Linked DNA regions of Homo sapiens. The protein of the gene in region 1 purifies or fractionates together with the protein of each later gene. This does not show direct contact. Each region holds a gene or a part of one and is shown in the gene's direction. Other genes may lie near its edges.

What was found. The genes of interacting proteins can lie anywhere in the genome.
Region 2: the proteins of LRRC8E (region 1) and TRMT6 purify together in Homo sapiens (affinity purification with mass spectrometry; 2 studies listed by BioGRID and IntAct, with this or other methods). This does not show direct contact.

The regions. Positions count from the first base shown.
Region 1 is NC_000019.10:7,891,494-7,898,518, forward strand, and holds part of LRRC8E (volume-regulated anion channel subunit LRRC8E), read left to right. Parts: intron 1-2,079; exon of another isoform or gene 2,080-2,366; intron 2,367-3,026; exon of another isoform or gene 3,027-3,846; intron 3,847-4,105; 5' UTR 4,106-4,110; coding exon 4,111-4,248; intron 4,249-7,025. UniProt on the Homo sapiens protein: Non-essential component of the volume-regulated anion channel (VRAC, also named VSOAC channel), an anion channel required to maintain a constant cell volume in response to extracellular or intracellular osmotic changes.
Region 2 is NC_000020.11:5,940,510-5,947,534, reverse strand, and holds part of TRMT6 (tRNA (adenine(58)-N(1))-methyltransferase non-catalytic subunit TRM6), read left to right. Parts: intron 1-1,001; coding exon 1,002-1,129; intron 1,130-2,620; coding exon 2,621-2,730; intron 2,731-3,281; coding exon 3,282-3,373; intron 3,374-3,503; coding exon 3,504-3,587; intron 3,588-3,851; coding exon 3,852-3,976; intron 3,977-4,748; coding exon 4,749-5,107; intron 5,108-5,498; coding exon 5,499-5,584; intron 5,585-6,189; coding exon 6,190-6,292; intron 6,293-6,395; coding exon 6,396-6,482; intron 6,483-7,025. UniProt on the Homo sapiens protein: Substrate-binding subunit of tRNA (adenine-N(1)-)-methyltransferase, which catalyzes the formation of N(1)-methyladenine at position 58 (m1A58) in initiator methionyl-tRNA.

The DNA.
Region 1 (7,025 bases):
TGGCAAGGACAGGAAGTTGGTCCCTGCTCGGGTGTGTGTGTGTGTGTGTGTGTTTGTGTGTGTGTGTGTGTGTTGTGTGATTTCTTCTGCAGCCTCCAGAGTCAGGAGTTTTTGTTTTGTTTTGTTTTTTTGAGACGGAGTCTCGCTCTGTCGCCCAGGCTGGAGTGCAGTGGCGAGATCTTGGCTCACTGCAGCTTCTGTCTCCCGAGTTTAAGCAATTCTCCTGCCTCACTCTCCTGAGTAGCTGGGATTACAGGCATCCACCACCATGCCTGGCTAATTGTTTTTGTATTTTTAGTAGAGACGAGGTTTCACCATGTTGGCCAGGCTGGTCTGGAACTCCTGACCTCAAATTATCCGCCTACCTTGGCCTCCCAAAGTGCTGGGATTACAGGCGAGAGCCACCGCGCCCGGCCCCAGTCAGTAGTGTTTTGCTTGCTGTGTTTGAGATAGGGTCTTGCCCAGGCTGGTTCATGGCTCACTGCAGCCTCTAACTCCTGGGTTCAAGCAATCCTCCCACCTCAGTCTTCCAAGTAGCTGGGACTACAGGCATGCACCACCACACCTGGCAAGATTTTAGATTTTTTTTTTTTTTTTGAGACGGAGTCTCGCTCTGTCGCCCAGGCTGGAGTACAGTTGTGCAATCTTGGCTCACTGCAGGCTCTGCCTCCCAGGTTCACGCCATTCTCCTGCCTCAGCCTCCCAAGTAGCTGGGACTACAGGCGTCTGCCACTATGCCCGGCTAATTTTTTGTATTTTTAGTAGAGACGGGGTTTCGCCGCATTAGCCAGGATGGTCTCAATCTCCTGACCTCGTGATCCACCCACCTCGGCCTCCCAAAGTGCTGGGATTACAGGCGTGAGCCACCGCACCCGGCCCAAATTTTTAGATTTTTTTGTAGAAATGGGGTCTGACTATGTTGTCCTGGCTGCTCAAACTCCTGGGCTCAAGCAATCCTCCTGCCTCAGCCTCCCAAAGTGCTGGAATTACAGGCCTGAGCCACTGCACCCAGCCTGGGGTCAGCATTCTTAGGTAAAGCAACTGAGCAGTGTCCCTGCAGGATCCTTGGAGGACTCAATGGATGGCCGGAACCAAAACAGGACGTGAGGGTCCCTGGTGCTGGGTCCCTCCGAAGCTCAGTGTGTGTACTTGGACTTTATACCCTCGTGCACAAATATGCATGACCCAAAATGACCCCAAGCGTCCATTTTGGTGGGTGCAATGTACATATTCTTCCCCTGGGGACAGTTGAGCTATCCTGGTATGTTTCTACCAGATTACATACTGGTGACCCAGGCAGACTGGGATATTTGTAGTCGGGTTTCTTTTCTCTTCTCTTCTCTTTTTTAGAGACAGGGTCTTGCTCTGTCGCCCAGGCTGGAATGCAGTAGTGCAATCTTGGCTGACTGCAACCTCCGCCTCCCGGGTTCAAGGGGTTTTCGTGCCTCAGCCTCCCGAGTAACCGGGACTACAGGCACCCTCCACCATGACTGGCTGTTTTGTATTTTTATTTTTATTTTGTTTTAGTTTTGAGACAGAGTCTTGCACTATTGTCTGGGCTAGAGTGCAGTGGCGCAATCTCAGCTCACTGCAACCTCTGCCTCCCAGGTTCAAGCGATCCTCCTGCCTCAGCCTCCCTAGTAGCTGGGATTACAGGCACCTGCCACCACGCCCAGCTAATTTTTTGTATTTTTAGTAGAGACGGGGTTTCATCACGTTGGCCAGGCTGGTCCCTAACTCCTGACCTTGTGATTTGCCTGCCTCGGCCTCCCAAAGTGCTGGGATTACAGGCGTGAGCCACCGCACCTGGCTAATTTTTGTATTTTTAATAGAGACGGAGTTTCACCATGTTGGCCAGGCTGGTCTCGAACTCCTAACCTCAAGTGATCTGCCCACCTCGGCCTCCCAAAGTATACTTGGCTTTTTGCTTAGGGCAGGGAGTGTGAATGAGCATGAGGGCCAGGCCATGGTGCGAAGGACCCTGTGCTCTGGGCACCCCCTTGCATGGATCTGGGTCTGGGTGAGTCACTGCCTGAGTCAGGGAACCCATGACTTTTTTTTTTTTTTTTCCCGAGACAGAGTCTCGCTCCGTCTCCCAGGCTAGATTGCAGTGGCACGATCTCAGCTCACCACAACCTCCGCTTCCCGGGTTCAAGCGATTCTCCTGCCTAGCTGGGACTACAGGTTCATGCCACCATGCCCGGCTAATTTTTGTATTTTTAGAAGAGACGGGGTTTCACCATGCTGGCCAGGCTGGTTTCGAACTCCTGACCTTGTGATCCGCCTGCCTTGGCCTCCCAAAGTGCTGGGATTACAGACGTGAGCCACTGCGCCTGGCCCAACCTATGACATTTTACACTTGCATGGTGAGTCCCCGTGTGGGCAGGCTGTACCCACACCCTTGCCTGCCTATCTGATTCCCCAGACTGAAGTGGGGGCCTCTGAGGGGGTAAAAGGATGTGGTCTTTCGGGACTGCTTGGCCTTTAGCTTGGTGGGTGGAGCCTGTATCCTACCTTGTTTTAACCCAGGAGTCACCCCAAAATATGGGGGGGACACAAACTGAAAAGGGAGGCTCAGACATGTCAGAACCATTGGCTGAGTCGTGGGTCAGGGGACCAGGGTTTCCCTAGATTCTTCCTGGGGAGATGGATGGGGAGCCAGAGATAACTCCCTGATGGGCAGATGCCCTCCTTCTTGGCCCAACTCCTGTCCCGTTACAGATTATCTTTGTCTTTTGTTTTGTTTGTTTGAGATGGAGTCTCACTCTGTCACCCAGGCTGGAGTGCAGTGGCACGGTCTCACTTCACTGCCACCTCTGCCTCCCCGGATCAAGACCCTCCCACCTCAGCCTCCAGAGTAGCTAGGATTACAGGTGTGTGTCACCACACCTGGTTAATTTTTTGTGTATTTTTAGTAGACTCTGGGTTTCACCATGTTGGCCTCACTGGTCTCGAACTCCTAACCTCAAGTGATCCACCTGCCTCAGCTTCCCATAGTGCTGGGATTACAGGCATGAGCCACCGCGCCCAGCCCCAGTTACAGATTATCTATCTGGACAAGGACAGGAGGCTCCCAGGAGTGGGGGAACTTGGATGTTGGCAGAAGTGGGCTGGTCTAAGGTTCCCCACCTTCCTTGTTCCACCTCCAGCCTCTGGGGAAGTAGGTACCTGCCTGGGAGAGTGACATCTCAGCTCATGCCCCACGCCCCAGTGTGATTTGTGGCTGGCCTGTCTGTATCTGTAATAGTGATAGCTTGGTCTAAAAGGAGACCCTGGGAACAGACAGAGTGGGCCGGCCAGGAGCCTGACAGCACAGCCCTAGCCTGGTCGCAGATGTCACCTGACAACTTTCCATTTGCAAATCCTCCTTCCTCCTCGGACATCCGGACACCCCATTGCCCCCTCTCAGAGCCCAGGTCTCTGGTTTCTGCCTGTGATTCTGGGCTGTAGCCCCTTTAGAAACTCAGGTGTCCTGGTCACCTCCTACCCCCAGGGCTGACTAGCCTTCAGCTTGGCAGTCCCTGCCCCTGGGGCCCTAGTAACCAGAGCCAGGCTCCAGCCGGCTTTTCCGGTTAGAGGTTGGAGGTGGTGCCCAGAGTGCCCCTGGAGGGGGTGGAGGGGCCTACGCCCCGGAAGTCCTGAGCCTTGGAACGCTTTCAGGCCTGGTGGCGGTGGGAGCCGGGGCTGGCCCAGACGCTGAGTGTCTGCAGTCAGGGAGCATCGAGGCAGATGTTTTCAGGCCTTGGTGTCAGGGGTGGGAGAGGGATGCCTCGTTTTGGGGAGGGGGCCACCCGAGGAGGCTGGAGGGCGGCGGCCCTGTGGACTATCCCTCATGTGCTCTTCGAGGTCAGACAAGTCAGATCAGGTGCAGGGGTGCCCAGAGGGGAACAGTGGCCGCTTGGTTCTGGGCAGGTGGTGACGTCTGCATGGAGGGTGACTAAGGCCAGGCTAAGAGGGAAGTGGGGGCACACACTTTGGTGGTTTGGACAAGTTTGGGCAGGGAGGGTCACAGGCCTGCCTGTGTCCGGCTCCTCGGAGGACCCCCTGCAGAGCCTCCCATCCTGAGGGTCTCTCTCTACACCCCCCGTCTCGTCCCGTCCCACAGGCAGCATGATCCCAGTGGCCGAGTTCAAGCAGTTCACGGAACAGCAGCCTGCGTTCAAGGTGCTCAAACCCTGGTGGGACGTGCTGGCCGAGTACCTCACCGTGGCCATGCTCATGATTGGGGTCTTTGGCTGCACCCTCCAGGTGAGGCCCTCCCCTGGCAAGGGGGTGTGACCAGAGGGGCGGGGCAGGTGTCTGGGGAAGTCGGGAAGCCTTCTCATCACCCAAGAAAGAGAGGAAACTGAAGACAGAGCCCCACTCAAAGGCCAATCCAGACCCCTTATCTTCCTTACCTCCATAGCCAGGAGCACCGGAGTCCCCACATTGCTATGCCATTCCATATCTTTTTTTCTTTTTTGAGACGGAGTCTCACTCTGTCACCCAGGCTAGAGTACAGTGGCATGATCTCAGCTCCCTGCAACATCTGCCTCCCGGGTACAAGCGGTTCTCCTGCCTCAGCCTCCTGAGTAGCTGGGATTACAGGCGCCCACCACCACGCCTGGCTAATTTTGGTAGTTTTTTAGTAGAGATGGGGTTTCACCATGTTAGCCAGGCTGGTCTCGAACTCCTGACCTCAAGTGACCTGCCTGCCTGGGCCTCCCAAAGTGTTGGGATTACAGGCCTGAGGCACTGCACCTGACCCTTTCTTTTTTTTTCTTTTTTTTTTTTTTCTTTTTGGCTAAAAAGAGACAGGGGCCGGGCATGGTGGCTCACACCTGTAATCCCAGCACTTTGGGAGGCCAAGGTGGGAGTATCACTTAAGGCCAGAAGTTTGAGACCAGCCTGGCCAACACGGTGAAAACCCGTCCTTACTAAAGACACAAATATTAGCCAGGCATGGTGGTGGACACCTGTAATCCCAGCTACTTGGAAGGCTGAGGCAGGAAAATTGCTTGAACCTGGGAGGTGGAGGTTGCAGTGAGCCGAGATCATGCCACTGCACTCCAGCCTGGGTGACAGAACGAGACTCCATCTTAAAAAAAATAAAATAAAATAATTGAAAATTAAAATAAAGAAACACGGTCTCATTCTGTCATCCAGGTTGGAGTGCAGTGGCATGATCACAGCTCACTGCAGCCTTGAACTCCTGGACTCAAGTGATCTTCCCGCCTCAGCCTCCAGAGTAGCTGGGATTACAGGCACACACCACCACGTCCAGCTAATTTTTAAATTTCTTGTTGACACAGGGGTCTTGCTATGTTGCCCAGGCTTGTCTCGGACTCCGGGCCTCAAGCCATCCTCCCACCTCGGCCTCCCAAAGTGCTGGGATTACAGGTGTGAGCCACTGTGTCCAGCCCCATATTTTCACAATGCTCAGTTTTATCCCTAGAATCTGGAAAGGACTGCAGTTGCTATATGAGTTTGTTACTTCTGTTGTAACAAAGTAGCAGGGATTGAGTGGCTTAAATAACCAGAAATGTTTCCTCTTCTGGGTCTGGTTCTGGAGGCCAGAAGTCTGAGATCAAGGCGTCAGTTGTCAGTGAGGGAGAATCTTCCAAGCTTCCCTCCTAGATTTTTGCAGCTCCAAGAGTTCCTTGGCTTGTAGATGACATTCTCCCAGTATTTTTCTTTTTCTTTTTCTTTTTTTTTTAGACAGAGTCTCCCTCTGTCGCCCAGGCTGGCATGCAGTGGTGCGATCTCGGCTCACTGCAACCTCCGCCTCCCGGGTTCCAACAATTCTCCTGGCTTAGCCTCCCAAGTAGCTGGGATTACAGGCGTGTGCCACCACGCCCGGCTAATATTTTTTTGTATTTTTAGTAGAGACGTGGTTTCAGTATGTTGGCCAGGCTGGTCTTGAACTCCTGACCTCGTGATCAGGATCAGCCTGCCTCTGTCTCCCAAAGTGCTGGGATTACAGGCATGAGCCACTGCGCCTGGTCGAGACAGTTTTTTTTTTTTTTTTTTAAGCAAGCTCTGTCACCTAGGCTGGAGTGCAGTGGCGCAATAATAGCTCACTGTAACCTTGTACTCCTGGCCTCAAGCAATCCTCCTCTACCACCCCCGCTTGGCCCCCCCTCCCACTGCCTCCCAAATCACTGGGATTACAAGCCTGAGCCACCGCACCCAGCCTCTCCCTGTATCCTCACGTCATCTTCTGTCTTTGTGTCTGTCTCTGTGTCTATGTTTCCCCTTTCTCTAAGGCGCAGTCATACTGGGCCCACCCTACTGGCTTTGTCTTGACTACCTCTGCAAAGACCCTATTACCAAACAGGAGCCGCCTGACCCAGCTCAAATAATACCACATTCTAAGGATTCGGAGTTGGGACTTCAACATCTTTTGTGGGGACACGATTCAACCCAGCTCCTTTTCTCAGACAAAGACCAGTGCTTTGTCAGTTGTGGTGGCTCATTCCTGTAATCCCAGCACTTTGGGAAGCTGAGGCAGGGGATCACTTGAGGCCAGGAGTTCGAGAGCAGCCTGGCCAACATGGTGAAACCCCATCTCTACTAAAAATACAAAAATTAGCTAGGCGTGGTAGTGCGTGCTTGTAGCCCCGGCTACTCAGCAGGCTGAGGCAGGAGAATTGCTTGAACCAGGAGGGGAAGGTTGCAATGAGCCAAGATTGCACCACTGCACACAGCCTGACAGAGCGAGACTCTTGTCTCAAAAAAAAAAACCAAAAAAAAAAAAAACAGTGCTTAGAGGTTTAGCAAAACTCTTCCAAAATCACAGCTGGCTGGCAACAGTCAGAGATGGGGGGTGCGGGGGGTCTCCCACCTTCAGCCTGCTTTTTCCCCATCCCCCTCATTTTCTCTCTTTTTTAAATTAATTTATTTTTGAGACAGAGGCTCACTCTGTCACCCAGGCTGGAGTACAATGGCGCGATCTCGGCTCACTGCAACCTCCATCTTCCGGGTTCAAGCGATTCTCCTGCCTCAGCCTCCCGAGTAGCTGGGATTACAGGTGCCCACCACCATGC
Region 2 (7,025 bases), on another chromosome or scaffold:
TGTGACTCAAAAGTGTGGCCGATTTAGGGAACCAATAAAGGTGACACACCCAGAGACCAGCAATGGTGGTAAGCCTCTGACACGGGAGCGTGGGTGATGTGGCAGTATATTCTGTCGTAATCAGCTTCCTGGTGGCACAGAGAAAGGAAGAGAAGGAGTGGGATGGGGCACAATCAGAATTAACCACCACATGATTCCCAGAATTCAGTGTTCTGTGCACATGGGCCATGTCCTGAAGCTAGGTGGGCTTTCTACCGTCCTTAGGTCTTTGCTGGAGTAGACCGTGTGGTATAGTGGAAAGAATGAGGCTTGGGGTCAGACACAGATTTGAATTTGAATCCCAGCTCCAACAACACCTTGCAACTGTGAATCTTGGACAAGATACTTCTCCCTGGGCCTCGGATTGCTCTTCTGGAAAGAGCTATGTCCCAGGATTACCGTGAGAATTAAATCAAAAAGTGTGAATCACACCTCGCACACACTGCCTAGCCCCTGGTTGGCACTCAGCAGATGTTAGTTTTCTTTTGAGAAGAAAGCATTGTGTTCCTGTGGGATTTCTCTTTTAAATTGCAATAAGATAAAAAATCTATGTCATAGGAAACCTCAAGTTGCCTGGTCCTCAGTAGAGCATTGTCAGTGTTAGGCTCCATTTCCAAGTGTGTAGATTGTCAGTGTTTATTTGCAAGTATAATTTGCTTTTATTAGATAATTTTCAAATAAAATGGCCGATCAGACCAAGCCCAAGAAATTTGTTAAATCCTTGTTACTTCGATGAGTCTTTGCTTCCCCTTTCCAAAATTCAGTGTTCTTGTGGCTTATTCATTAATTTTACGTCTCTATCCCAACCAGGTTCTCTCTAGTTCCTTTGTTGCTTTATGTTCAGAGATAATGCTGCTGATCATCCATTGTGGAGACCACTTTTGAAATAAACTGTAGTGAACATGTCTTTTCTGTACTGGATAGAAAAGATATTCAGTTAATTGATTACTTTTTTTCCCTAGAAAAGTAACTTTCGAAAAACAGTGGTTCTACCTGGATAACGTCATTGGCCATAGTTATGGAACTGCATTTGAAGTGACCAGTGGAGGAAGTCTACAGCCCAAGAAGAAGAGGGAAGAGCCTACTGCAGGTGCACATTTTGGATGCGTGAAATAGATGCTCTCCAACTGACTAGTCAGAAACATCTCAGCCTCCACCTAATTCCCAAGTGCTAGGCCATGCTATCCCAAAAGAAATCTTAACTCATAATCTAAGAACTGCAGCTCAGTGGAGTGAAGCAAGTACTGCCTTTGGCCATGAGATAACCTGGATTCTGGCTCCAGCCCACCATTAAATGGTTCTCTGTTCTTGGGCCAGGCATTTAATCCTATGAGTCGTTGCTGCGTCATTGCAAGAACATAATGTAAAGTTCTTTCAGTGCCCAGAAGTTATGTAACAGCTGTGAGGTGGTTAGCATATGGTGTAGAGGTTAAGAGGTCTGGTTTTGGATCCAGCTAAGTTCAATTTCTACCTTCATCACTTGCCTTGTACCGTTGGGCAACTTATTTGATTTCTGTGAGTCTTATATCCTTATATATGTAAAATAGGGTCATAAACACATTTAATGCCTAGGTTGTATTGAGTGTTCTATGATATGACTCATAGGAAGTTCTGAATAGTGTCTTGCTTTTAGTAAGGGCCCATAATTTTAGCTATTACTATTATTATTTCTTAACAACCTCTTGTCCAAAAGCTGTTATTGTTAATTAAAATTATATTTATTAAAATGAACATTGAGAGTATCTTATTAATTAAAACACAAGTAATTATTTGAAGTTAAATACTGTTAAAGTTTTGAGTCAAACCTGTTATTTAGATACATTTAAATTAATATCCATATTTTTACTAAGCACCAAATATATGCCAGGTATAATTTGGCGCTGCAATTATAGCAGTTCATAAGATAGACTGTCGTATAAAATGTGCTTACCAGTTGGAACACCAAAAATAATCAAGTAGACAAGCAAACAGCATGATTTCTGATGGTGAAGTGACACATGCTATGAAGATAATAAAGCAGGGGCGTGTACTAATTTGGTAAAGCAAGAGAATGAGCTCAGCCTCAAGTGATAGAAAGGATCCAGCCACTCAGACATCTGTCGTAGAACCTTCCAGGCAGAGGAAGCAGCAGGTGCCAAAAGCCTGCTGTGGGACCTTGCTGGGTGTGTTCAAGGAACAGAAAGAAGGCCATTGTGGCTGAAGCTAAAGTGTCAAGAGATCAGGCCAGGAATGATAGGCAGGGGCCAGATCATTTATGACCTTGCAGGTCATCTTTGGAGTGTATTCTTATTGCTATGGGAAGCCACTGTATGGTTTTAAGCATGGGGTAGATGAGTCAAATTGCATTTAAACAAAGAGCACTCTGGCATCCAGGTGGATAGTAGGGGGGCAAGACTGGGAGCAGGAAGATGACTTAGAGGCTTGGAGTAGTTTTGGCAGGAAAGGATAGTGTGATGGGGGCAGTGCAGCTGGGAGGCCAGACTTGAGTGGCTGATGGACTGGATGTGGATATGAACTCAGAAAAAGAAAGTGTCAAATAATTTCAGACCATAAATGTCAATAGAGCAATTTCTTTCCTTAGAGACTAAAGAAGCGGGCACTGATAATCGAAATATAGTTGATGATGGGAAATCTCAGAAACTTACTCAAGATGACATAAAAGCTTTGAAGGACAAGGGCATTAAAGGAGAGGTAATATTCAAAGGATTTTTAGTTTTGTTTTTGTCTGTTTGGCATTTAGGAAACTGTTGGGTTTTTAAAGCAGACTGTACCTAAGGTAAAACAAAAAAATAACGTTATAGCTTTGATAGAAATAGGTTGAAATGTACATGTTACTCAACATTTCAAAGATTTTATGTCTTATATACAGGAATATAAGTGAATGACATTACTAATGTCAGTGGTAGAGAATGTAATAACAGTGCATATCAGGATTTAACTTTGTTCATTTTCAGTAATGTTTTCAGCCAGTGTCTTCAGAAATTAGTTTCCTTTACCTCTCTTCTCCTTTTGTTGGATATCTCTGTTCTTTTACGTTGGTTTAAGTGGAGTTATAAAGTACTTGTATTTTATTATAAATTCCAAATAGAGTATAGAAATATAAAGTTCATCTATTTGGACTTCTGTGGAAAAGGGATTGGAGAATCAGACCATTGGATCCATTCTTGGGTAAGAAGCCTTTGGAAATTACTTGTTTTGTGAAAGTAAAGTTTCAGAAAATCTACTTGCTCCTTTTCTTATAGGAAATAGTTCAGCAGTTAATTGAAAATAGTACAACATTCCGAGACAAGACAGAATTTGCCCAAGATAAATATATTAAAAAGAAGAAAAAAAAGTAAGTAGTTTTTATTTTAAAAGGCCCACAATATTAAACTTCTTATATGTTTATAAAATATACATTTTATTACAAATAAAATATTTTAAGTCATTTTTTTAAATCAGCGTTCTGTTTTTTCTTCCCCCAGATATGAAGCCATCATTACTGTTGTGAAGCCATCCACCCGTATTCTTTCAATTATGTATTATGCAAGAGAACCTGGAAAAATTAAGTACGCTTTGTTTCCTTTCAAAAGTATAATTGGGGGAAATATGTCTTTAAGAAAGTCATGATTTTAAGTAAAATGAAAAAGCTTGCTCACCTGCATAAAGTATCCTCCTACCTCATAAATTGTAAGTCCTTTTACTGTCACCTCCAAAGCAATCAATAATCTTATCAACACAATTTTAATAAAGCAAACAAAACTTGAAAAATGATGATTAAAATAATAGGCTTTACTTAGCTAAAAATGAACAAATTATTGTTTTTACTTTAGCCACATGAGATACGATACACTAGCCCAGATGTTGACGTTGGGAAATATCCGTGCTGGCAACAAAATGATTGTGATGGAAACGTGTGCAGGCTTGGTGCTGGGTGCAATGATGGAACGAATGGGAGGTAAGATTTAATATTTCCATTTTCAACAAAACCCCACCCTGATGTGAGTAAAGGTGGTCCAAAAATGTAAACTCATGGAAAGCCAAATTGAATTACTTCAGGGTTAACAAAGTGACTTGGGTGAACCTGCACGGCTCCTAGCATGGGGACCTTCTTACACAGTCTCCATCACCCAGCCCCCCACCCATGGGTACCCCCAAACCCATGGCAATTGTCCTTTCTAGCTTCACTGTCAGTGGGCATGATGCTGGAGCCTGTGGCTGGCTAGGGCTTTCGGGACAGTGATTTTAGTAAACTCCTGGGTAGCTGGTGCTCATTTCATTGGGCCTAAATTGAAGGGATTGAGTGGGAAGATTACTAAGCATGTATTCTCTCTGGAAGAATACAACACAGCCTGATTTGTCTGGTTTTTTTCTGACCCCATAGAAGGTAAGAACTTGTAACTGCTCCATTTGAGGATCGGAGTGAGGGGAAGCAGAGTCCGTCACCAATCATGTGACATCCAAATTTGCAGACACAGGGTTTTACAATAGTATCAAGTGGGGATAAGCTTCTTTGAGTCTTCCTGCTATCTGCTTTAGAATTATATTACCTCCATTGGTAATACTCATAGACTCCAAACAGACTCCCTGAGGAGCTGCACCATCCTTCAGCCTCTGAATAAAGTACTAATAGAAAGACCTTCAGTCTCATTACTGTGGAGGACTCACTGAGGGTTTACGTAGTCTAGAGTCACTCCACGGGCAGATGTTTGTTTCTTTTATCTGTTCAGGTTTTGGCTCCATTATTCAGCTATACCCTGGAGGAGGACCTGTTCGGGCAGCAACAGCATGTTTTGGATTTCCCAAATCTTTTCTCAGTGGTCTTTATGAATTCCCTCTCAACAAAGTGGACAGTCTTCTACATGGAACATTTTCTGCCAAGATGTTATCTTCAGAGCCAAAAGACAGTGCTTTGGTTGAAGAAAGTAATGGCACACTGGAGGAAAAACAGGCTTCTGAACAAGAGAATGAAGACAGCATGGCAGAGGCCCCAGAGAGCAACCACCCAGAAGACCAGGAAACAATGGAAACAATTTCTCAAGATCCAGAACATAAGGGGCCTAAAGAGAGAGGAAGCAAAAAAGATTATGTAAGGATGCCAAGAGTCCCCACCACCCCCATAATCTCAGTCCCTCAGTTAACTTCAGTTAAGTCATGAGATTTAGTTTGGCTTTGGTGTATTAGCTCCCAAGATGATAACTATCAAAACAGAGAACGAGTGTGTGTACATGTATACAAACGTGTGATTCGGTCTTCGGGATGGAGCTTTAGGATACAGAAGCGTTGCATAGATAGCTTAATCATGGTTTTTATAGTATATAGGCTTTCTTGTGTATTTGCAACTTCCTTATAAACAACCTGCTTCTATTGGTTTAGTCCAAGTTGATAAATATTGTTGAAATGTTTTGACAGGCCAGAGCATTTCCATAAATTTGACTGAAAGACCCCAGTACATTGATTTCTTATTTTTCTTTTTGAAGATTCAGGAAAAACAGAGGAGACAAGAAGAGCAGAGGAAAAGACATTTAGAGGCTGCCGCTCTGCTGAGTGAAAGAAACGCAGATGGGTGCGTTGATGGAAGAAGGCAGGAGACTCCTCAGTGCATGTGGGCTCTGCTTCAGACAGATTGGCATTCTCTTTCTCCTTGTCTGCTTTGACTCTAGTGGGACCCGAGATGAGGATTTTGTCTTGGGGGTTTTTTTAAAGAAAGGAGGCTGAGGCTGGCAGGGGTGGGGAATTGATGATGCTGGTTTCAGGGTTTCAGAAGAAATTGAATCTTCTCCATCACTGCATCAAGATGGGCCCTGTGGTCCCACTGGATGCAGGGGATGGGGCACTCAAATGCTGCGATACAGGCTATAACAGATATCCACAAAGCAGCTTATGCAGTGTTGGATTTGTTTCCAGGTGATTTTTTTTAAAAAATCAAGAATGTCATTAAATGCGACTTAGAGTTGCCAAGTACCACAAGAGCTTCTAACCTAGTTCGCGTTTCCTAGAAAGAAATAGCTCATGATTGTATTCTGTTTTGGATTTCTAGAATGTTATATTTAAATCTCTTCTCTTTGTGAGTCATGCAAATTAAATACATGATCATTTTAAATGCATTTTAAAACCTGTGCTCCACTTTGAGGGTGTAGAGAAATAATTTGTCTGGCATTTTCCTTACAGTTTAATTGTAGCTAGTCGTTTCCACCCCACTCCCCTGCTGCTGTCTTTGCTGGACTTTGTGGCCCCTTCAAGGCCGTTTGTGGTCTACTGTCAGTACAAAGAGGTAATACTGGAATGGAATGGGCAGGAATTCTTATGTCTGAATGTTGATTCTTAAACTGCATCCCAGGAAGTAGTTCTTAACAGAATTCTGTTGTTGTCTGCAGCCTCTGTTGGAATGCTACACAAAACTGCGGGAGAGGGGAGGGGTCATCAACCTCAGGCTGTCTGAAACCTGGCTCAGAAATTATCAGGTACGTGTTCTTACAGCCAGTCCCAAGAGCTGCCCTCCCGAGACTTGACTTTCCTTGCAGTAGTACTAGAAGTCATTAAATAGAGTTATCTCAGCCAGGCACAGTGGCTTATGCCTGTAATCCCAGCACTTTGGGAGGCCAAGGCAGGCAGATCGCTTGAGCCCAGGAGTTCAAGACCAGCTTGGGCAACATGGTGAAACCCTGTCTCTACAAAAAAAAATACATAAATTGGCTGGGCATGACCCTGTATCTACAAAAAATATAAAAATCAGTCGAGCATGGTGGCAGGTGCCTGTAGTCCCAGCTACTCAGGAGCTGAGGTGGAAAGATTGCTTGAACCCTGGAGGTCGAGGCTGCAGTGAGCCGAGATCCCACCACTGCACTCCAGCCTGGGTGACAGAGTAAGACCCTCTCTCAAAAACAAAACAAAATAAAAATAGAGATGTCTCTGTTTCTTTCTACAGGGATGGAGATTTCTCATGGCTGTTACTCAGAGAATATGCCCCTGACTTTTTGTGACCCTTTTTTTCTCTTGTTATGTCA